Regions from separate parts of the Homo sapiens genome. Here region 1 is linked to region 2. Evidence: fine-mapped expression QTL. A gene starts in region 2. The other region holds a variant in brackets. All regions are shown on one strand. Distances are between the middles of the regions.

The links. PIP is the estimated chance that this variant, and not a neighbour inherited with it, causes the effect. A credible set is the group of variants that fine-mapping cannot tell apart.
Region 1: its variant is the best candidate, but not a certain one, in a credible set for the expression of RHEX in whole blood (TOPMed, PIP 0.51).

Annotation. Positions count from the first base shown.
Region 1 is chr1:206,081,472-206,085,864 of GRCh38, reverse strand. All of the region lies in intron 1 of RHEX (regulator of hemoglobinization and erythroid cell expansion), which reads right to left. Among named protein-coding and RNA genes, the nearest start is that of RHEX, 30 kb to the right of the region's middle. The variant A/C (reference allele first, on the strand shown) is at 2,335.
Region 2 is chr1:206,051,252-206,055,644 of GRCh38, reverse strand. RHEX (regulator of hemoglobinization and erythroid cell expansion) reads right to left here and starts at 2,472. Exons shown (of 6, transcript NM_001007544.4): 1 at 2,380-2,472. LOC105372857 (a long non-coding RNA gene) reads left to right here. Exons shown (of 3, transcript XR_922473.3): 3 at 1-2,202. RefSeq lists enhancers at 2,357-2,416, 2,837-3,076.

The DNA.
Region 1 (4,393 bases), 30 kb before region 2:
CAACTTTATACATTCCTTGGGCACATTATTTCCTCTCCCTGAGCCTCAGTTCCCCTGTCTATAAAATGAGAGGAGTGGGCTAAATCAATTCAGTTCTGACATTTTGTTATTTTAGAATTTTTCTGAAATGGACTAAAAAGTGAGATTCAAAAGTGAGAAAGAGCAACTTTGAGCCTCAACTAGATAAACCACACCTCCAGTCACATTTATTTCTAGGTGCAAGCACTGCCAATTTCTAGCAGGAAAGCAAGTCATCCAGAGTTTCTAATTAGTAATTTTGGGGAAAGCAGTTTTGCAAGGAACTACTAGAGATGAATGCAATGTGGATGCAACTTAGTTCCAAGACTAAATCAGCAAGAACACAAAAAGTTGCAAGCTACTCAAGCAGTATTCATGGATTCATTTTGCTAGTTCCCACAAAGCTCCAGATGAATTAGAAGGGGTCAAATTATTCTGTTTCATCGATTGGCCTGCTAAATTTTAGGGAAACTAGGCACCTTCTACAGATTATGCACCCTCTATAGATTATGCATCTTGTTGGCTGGGACTGCATATATTACACTCCGCAATTCATAGCACAGTACGTAAAAACACGGCAGGGATAGGGATGGAAAAAGCATTTCAATGTGTAACACTCTGTACACATTGCTATTAAATCAATTTGCATATAATAAATGTTTAACCTTGGGGGAGCCACTTAATGTCTCAGAGTTTCGCTTTTCTCCTCTTTCAATTGGGCAGTCAAATGTCTCTTTATTTGACTTATTTTCCAGTTGAAGAAACTGAGGCAGCAAGGTGTTAAGGGACTCGACTGATTCAGTGAAAGAAAACTCTTCTGGAGAACTTTAGCACAGAAGAGTTAGACCAGGCCTTTCTCCATCTCTCCAACCCGGGGGTTGGGGGGAGCTCAGAATTATTAGGAGGGCTACATGAGACCATGGAAACTTCCAGTACCATTCCTGCCTCCTTGTCAGGATTCAGGGCCAGTGCTGGCTTCATGGACTTGTAACCTGTGCAGACTAGTAGGGCCCTGTGCTCACAAGGACCCCATGATTGGCCTGATGCTTTGTGGCTGTCATCTTTAAATTCGTAACAATTTTTGAGTAAGGGACCCCAGATTTTCATTTTGCGTTGTGTGCCACCAATTATGTAACAGATCCTACTCAAGGCATTTAATTGGGTAGTTTGCCAAAGCTCACAAAATAGGTCAACACACAGAACGAGAAGCAGGATCAGCCAATCAACAAGTCTTCCTTGAGTACCTGATACATGCTTCCCAGCACCGCATTGTCTGAGCCCCTCCCAGGTTGGAGAGATGGAGAAAAGCCTGATCTAACTCTTCTGTAATGAAATTCTCCAGAAGAGTTTTCTTTCACTGATTCAGTCAAGTCCCTTAACACCATGGCGCCTCAGTTTCTTCAACTGGAAAATAAGGCTGTTAGTAGCACTTACGTCTTTAGGTGTGAGGAATAAATGGGCCAATCTGCGTAAAATTCTTTGAACAGTCCTCGGCAGATACTAAGCTCTATATAAGGGTCGACTGTTTCTGTTTTGTGCTGTTATTAGCTTTTCCTTGTCCAGATGCTGGCATGGCTTTTTTCTTTCATGGTGCACATTCTCTGACCTCTATTCATAAAATTTTAAAACTCCCAGGCTGGCTCTCTTCCCTCCACACATACTAGTCCTTTGCTGCTCAGAGTGTTTTCTCAGGGAAAACATTCCTATAGGATGTTTATGGGGGAAGATATTCTGTGAGATCTGGTTCCCATTTGACTTAAAAAGGAAACTTCATAGCTGTTATTGGTGGAGCCTGTACTGGCACTAAATGTACATTGTCTGAATCCATGTAGCAACCCTGTAAGGTGGGTGTTTTATGCCCATTTTACAGATGAGGAAACTGAGGCTCACAAAAGTTTAGCAGAGTGAGGATTTGGAACCAGTTTTTGCTGGACCCAAAATCCATGTACCTTCTGGCCGAAGCCCCAATGGCTGCTGTTGCTAGTGTAGACAGATGTCAGGTCTCAGGCACAAGAAATTCATGTCCATAAAGTGTAATCTTAGGCTCACTGTAAGCTGATTGCAAGTGGAATTCCGCACCCTGGAATCTCAGCACATAAACAGAGAATCCTCTCTAAAACTTCTACACATATATGCTCGCAAACAAATGCACACTTCAAACTAATTTAAAATCCTGTCTCCATAGACAGTACTTACCCTTAGGACTATGAGCACAGTTTGATCCCAGTCTGTGTTTCAGCGATGTCCTAACGGAAATATCTCCCCGACCCTTCTCCAGCCCCTACCCAGAAGCTTCTGTGTCACTGGAGGTCAGTC[A/C]CAAGTGTTTCAACATTTCCAACAAGGCGGGAGCACTGCCACTCAGAAGATAGCAATCTCGCTCGTTGAGTACAGCAGGGTGAAGGGAGAGATAATGCCTCCTGTCTCTTTTGGCCATGCTCTGCCCAGCTCCCTGGTACAGACAGTTTGTGTAGATGGAGGAGATTAGTAATCTCTTTCTCTCCCTGTGGCACACATTTAGATACCACAAATACACACGCAGCCAGGTAGAGTGGAAAGAGCACTAAAGGAGGAGTTAAGAGGCCTAAGATCAAGTCCCAGCTCTGGCACCAATGTGCCACATGAGCTCAGACAATTTGTTTTTCCCTAAAGGGACTCATGTTCTTCCTCTGTAAAATGAAGAAGTAGGTCTCTAGATATTAGCAAAGATACTTTCCAACCTAGCTCATCTGTGAATCTATATGTGATGTATTCAAAGATTAAGTGAGTAGGGGACGTTGGGCAATAGATAAGAATAAATTTTTGAGGACAACTTCTTTGTCATTAAGCATCAAATGAGGCCAACCAAAAATGGCTGTTACAGTTTGTGGGATAACAGCAGGAAGGGAAGGAAGGCTGATTTCAGGCTCTTTGGAGGGCCTAAAATCCCAAAATAGAAACTTAAGAGGAAAGAAGAATGGGAGGAGGATAAAATGACCCAGATATAAAACAGACAAAGAAAACAGAGATTTGTAGGCCTCTATGATGTCAGTCCCTTGCTGTGAACAAATTGCCTGGTGCAATTTGAGTAATAGCTTCTGAGTTAGATATAGTCAGGTTTCAATCCTGGTTCCACTACTTGGCAACTGGGTGACTTGGGAAAAGTTACTTAACCTCTCTGATTGTCAGTTTTTTCATCTGTAAAATTGGGTTAATAATAAATATCTGATATTTTTTAAATCTCATAAGGTTGTTTAAGGTTAAATAATATAAGTAAGTAAGTGAAGCACTTAACAGAATGTCCTTTCTGTAGTGAACAACAGATGGTAGCTATTAACTTTTTTTTTTTTTTTGAGACGGAGTCTCTCTCTGTTGCCCAGGCTGGAGTGCCATGGTGCGACCTCGGCCCGCTGCAACCTCCGCCTCCTGGGTTCAAGCGATTCTCCTGCCTCAGCCTCCTGAGTAGCTGACATTACAGGTGAGTGCCACCACACCTGGCTAATTTTTGTATTTTTAGTAGAGACAGGGTTTCATCATGCTGGTCAGGAGCTGGTCTCAAACTCCTGACATCGTGCTTCACCCGCCTCAGCCTCCCAAAGTACTGGGATTACAGACATGAGCCACAGCGCCCAGCCGCTATTAACATTTTTATTCTCTAAATGCAAGTCAGAAAGCCACCCCTTGGGCTGAGTCCCTTTCAGTGTTTTATGACCCGTTGATGTATCACAGCTCACTGTGGAACTACGTCTATTGCTGCAGTTTGCTTCCCTTTGCATAGTTCATGTTAAAAACATGAAGCCTCTTTATTACTCAAGATTTGAGGAAAGCAGAACACTGGGAGCCATGTGGAGTGATTTCCTAACTGGGCTCTCCACCTGCTCTAGGTTTGCCCTGCCAGTGTCAATACACACTTCGCTCTGCTCCTGACTCAGCCATGGACACTAAGTAATCAATTCAAGCTACAGCTAACTGTGGGGATCATGCCAAGATGCTTGGCCTGCTATTTCTATTATCCATTCACAGGAACCCAGTGTAGATATGGCAGCATCCAATGTCACGTAACATTCATACAGCTCTAGCCTCTGTGTGGACCACTCTTGGACCAGAACCTTCCATGATGCTACTCCAAGATTCACAAGATCATAGGATTGTTAAAGATCTTTGAACACACATATTTCAGTGTCATTTTAGAGATCTTCAGTTGATTAAGGACAATGATGCGGCATTTTTATCATGTATCAGAGATAATGATTCCTTTAATTAAGCTACACTTCTGTGCACACTCTTGCTAGGACTGCGTTGCAGCAATATGCTTCTATCTTTATAAGATGCACCAGAGTTTAGTAGAAAATCCACTTGACTTGAACTTCAATGACCTAAAAATCTGAGGCATTTATCC
Region 2 (4,393 bases):
ACTGTCATCTACCAAAATATTGACTTAAATCCTGTAGCTATTTGATTTCGGACTTTAAATTGATCTGGTGTTCCTTGCGGGGCTTCGATTGCATCTAAATAGATGTGAGAGTTGAAAGACCCATAAGGGGCTTCTCTCGCTTTACGATGTCTTATTATTTTTTTTTTCCTTCCTCTGGTTGATGAAATGCCAGGGTGAAAGGGATAGCCAAATAGGCTAAAGCACAAGTGCCACTCTAGTTATTCGGCAGAGTGCCCAATAAAGGTCCACGACAATACCATCACACATCCGCTCGGGGATGAACAAGGGCTGACTGACTGATAAGCTCTTGAAAATTCTTAAGCTCACTGCATCCCTTCAGGTCTCCAAGGAATGCTAAGTCTCCTCCCTGCCATGAGAGACATGAAGTGAACTTAGTGTTGGGAGACGGAAGCTGGACGGCCCTCAGGGGCTGACCCGCAGGGACTTTGGGATATAGCAGAGAGAGCTTGGCATGACTTATTACTCCAAGCTGTAGAAACCTGGAAAATAGCTACCCTGCAGCCCATGCCTGGTCAACTGGAGGACCACCTTAGTGGAAGGGGGACAATCAGGGCCTCTGGCCTGCCATGTGCACAAGCATAACAATTGCATTTGTTTAAAGTGCAGATGGAATATTTGATCCATTTCAGCCAGGCACTTGCATCTTGGCGTGCTGTCTTAATTGCCAAAGTTTGTTTTAAGTCTTTAACTTTTATGATCCTCTAGTAAAATGAATGTTTCCTTTAGCACCAATTTTTATTAGTTTTTAGACCAAAGAAAGCTAAACACCATTTTATATTTAATAATGTTTCTTGTATGATTTTTATACCAGATAAGCTAAATTTTACCTTTATATTAGTGTGTTATTAATTTTAAACTGAATTTTAATAAAACCTTGTAGACATATTTATCCAATTTTTCATGTTTGACCATAAGGTAAGATTTTATAGACTCTTTTTAACCTTTTATAATTTTTGTTAAAGAGCAGGTTGATGCTTTAAGAAAAACCTGTGGCATTTTTTACTTTAATGTCCAGTTCACAGAAAAACTGGATGATACCTTTTTAACTTTAGCTAATATGTTTACACACAGAATTTTCTTTATAATTAACGTTTTAAAACTTGCTTAAACTTTTAAAACAATAATTGTTTTTAACCTTTTAATGTAGGTAAAAATCCACATTCTTATGCCCCTTTATAATCTTTTTACCAAAGGTATGTTTTACTTTTCTTATACACCTTGCACATAAACTGTTTTTTTAATAGTACTCAGGAGGCCTTATTACTTTTAAATTATACAACATTTTTTGCATAAATTTTTTTATAACATTTTTTCTTTCACGACTTTTGCCGACAATTCTTCAATGTGTCTCAACTTTCTGACTTATTACAAACATTTTTTTTCTTTAAACACCAGTTAGTTTATTTCAGGACAAGAATTTACCATATAACACTCTTTTTACATAAATTCTGTCTCCCCCCACTTTTTTTTTTTTTTGAAGATAACCATTCCTTTTTTTTTTTTTTAAAGCAAACTTTCTTTATGCCTTTGGACTAGACTGTCTAAGGCCACAAGATTAGAAGTTACCATAATACATGTTACACTGTTAACTTTAAGCAAACTTCACTTTTGTTGAAAACCTTGTAAGTTTGGGATTTCAATTATCCTTTGCTATTAAGACCTTGTTTAGTCTAAATTAACTTAGAATTGGTATAGATGGCCTTTTTTTCTCTCTACTGGTCTTTCCTTGCCTCTGCCAGCCGCTTATGCTGCTGTTCTCTTAACTACGTTGGCGGGGCAAGGGGGTATAAAAGCAGCTGTAACTTTCTATGTATGGAAACTGGTCTGGGTGCCTTGGCTTACGGGTTACCTTGTGTCATACCTTTGAAACAAGGGACCTGTCCAGGCTTCCTTCTGATGGCCAACCCACCTCTAATGCTGGCCAGTCTATTTCACACAAAGTTCTAAGTTTTCCTGGTGTCACAGTAACACTGTAATCTCCCTTAAATTCTTTCTTGAATTTTTTTTTAACATAGTTCCTAGTGGGGTGGGCTTATTTGTACCTGACCCATGCTTCTTCGAGACAAAACACCACACCCACACCACACACATGCCACAAACAAAAAAACAGGTAAAAAGGGCATACACACTCTTGCAGTTTACACCAAACCAAAATCAAAACCAAAATCAGAGTATCCAGAAATCCAAGCCAGGTCAAAACCAAAACCAAAACCAAAGTATCACACAATCTAAGTCAAGTCAAAACCAGAACAGAAGTGCCAATGCAGGCATGTCGTGGGTGATCAGGCCACACTTCCACCTAGATGGAGTGGGGCAAGTTCCAAAGACTAGTCTTACCAAGTTTCAGATGTCCGGACTCCAAGTGCCAGTTCCTTCCCGGTGTTCAGCCACTGTGTTAATCCTCCACAGGGAACTGCTACACGCTGCTCTGGTGAGGCATTCCACCGGGGCAATTTCCTACCCGGGAGTGCTCTTTGGATCGCGTCACTCGGGCTGGCCGGAGTCCGCCTCAGGGATGCTCCACAGGGGAGGCCTAAGCCGCCTAAGGGGCTGCCTCGGCTGTCCATCAGTTACCTCGTTTCCTGGTCAGGGAACCAAGAAATGTAGCAGGACGAGCCGCAGACAAAACCCCTCAGACACCAAATTGTAGAAGGAAGGGCTTTATTCAGCTGGGAGCATCAGCAGGCTACTGCCTTAAAATCCGAGCTCCCCGAATGCACAATTTCCGTCCCTTTTAAGGGCTCACAATACTAAAGATTTCACATGAAAGGGTCATGATTGATTTGAGCAAGCAGGCGGTATGTGACAGGGGCTGCATGCACCGGTGGTCAGAGAGAAACAGAACAGGGCAGGGAGTTTCACAATGTTCTTCTATACAATGTCTGGAATCTATGAATAACATCAGTTTCTAAGTTATGAGTTGATTTTTAACTACTGGGTTTAGGCCAGGCAGGCCCAGGCCTGGTTTCGGGCCTGGCGCCGGACTGCCTGTCTTTGGTTTTACTTCCTTGTTGTTTTTCCTTAAAACAGGTACTGAGTATAAAACAATATAAAACAATATGAGAGGGTCTCTCTCTTCCCTCACAGTGACCTGGGTCTCAGACACTTCCTAACTGTGATCTTAGGACAAACACTTAGCTTTTCTGAGCCTCATCTGTGAAACAGACAGAATATGAATGCCTACCTCATGGAGTTGTTTAAGAACTCAGTGATCAGACTATTATTCAACAGTAATAACGAGCCAGGCCCAGTGGCTCACGCCTATAATCTCAGCACTTTGGGAAGTCAAGGCAGGAGGACCGCCTGAGCTCAAGAGTTTGAGACCAGCCTGGGCAATATAGCTAGACCTTGTCTCTACTTTAAAAAAAAAAAATCCGAAAATTAGCTGGGTGTGCTACTGCATGCCTGTAGTCCCAGCTCCTTGAGAGGCTGAGATAGGAGAATCACTTAAGCTAGGGAAGTCGAGGCTGCAGTGAGCCATGATCACACCATTGTACTCTAGCCTGGGTGACAGAGCAAGACCCTGTCACAAAAACAAACAAAGAAACAGAAGACAGGAATAACCACCATTTGTATTGTTCTAGTTTTCAGTTGGTCTTACCTGAGCAGAGTAATTGGGTGAGATTGTTCATGGAGGCATTGCTGGCTCTCTAGTCCTGGAACCTACAGTTGGTCCAATTCATTATGCCAAAGGGTCCGTCTAGGAGGTTCTTGTTCCAAGTATTGAGATTCCCGAGAGAAGTAGGTCCCCTTAGATAGAAGCAGAGTTTCTCAGAGGTATTTAGCAGCAGCTGGTGGACACAGGACTCAGGGAGCTGGCCCCCCTCTTCCCTTCCATGTCTTTCATTCCTGCATGGGAACCTGTCAGATGGGGAGATTGTTAAAATCTCACCACTGGAGGGGAGGGCCTCAAAGGCCATGGAGACAGCACCTCTCTCTTAGTGAAGGCATCTTCAGATAGAATTCAGCACAAATTCAAAGGTGGCTCCCCAGACCCTATCTGTCACATCGCCCTCTCATCTATTAGTATCTGAAGTCACCTTGATCATTTATTTGTTTACTTGATTATTGTCAGCCTCTCATCACATGAATGTGAGCTTCATAAGAACAGAGACCTTATCTGTTTTGGCCAACATTTCACCCCCAGTGTCTAGAAAGTGCCTCATGCAATGAATAGGTCCAATACATATTTCTTCAATAAATGAATGAATGAATGAATGCCAAAGACTCCTTCATAAAAGCCAGGGTCAACTGACCTCTGCCAGAATTTTGGAGAGCCTACACCACAGACTTTTGAACCTCTTAGCTGATGACAAATCTTTAGCCTTCGAAGCGGAAATTGATTTGAAAG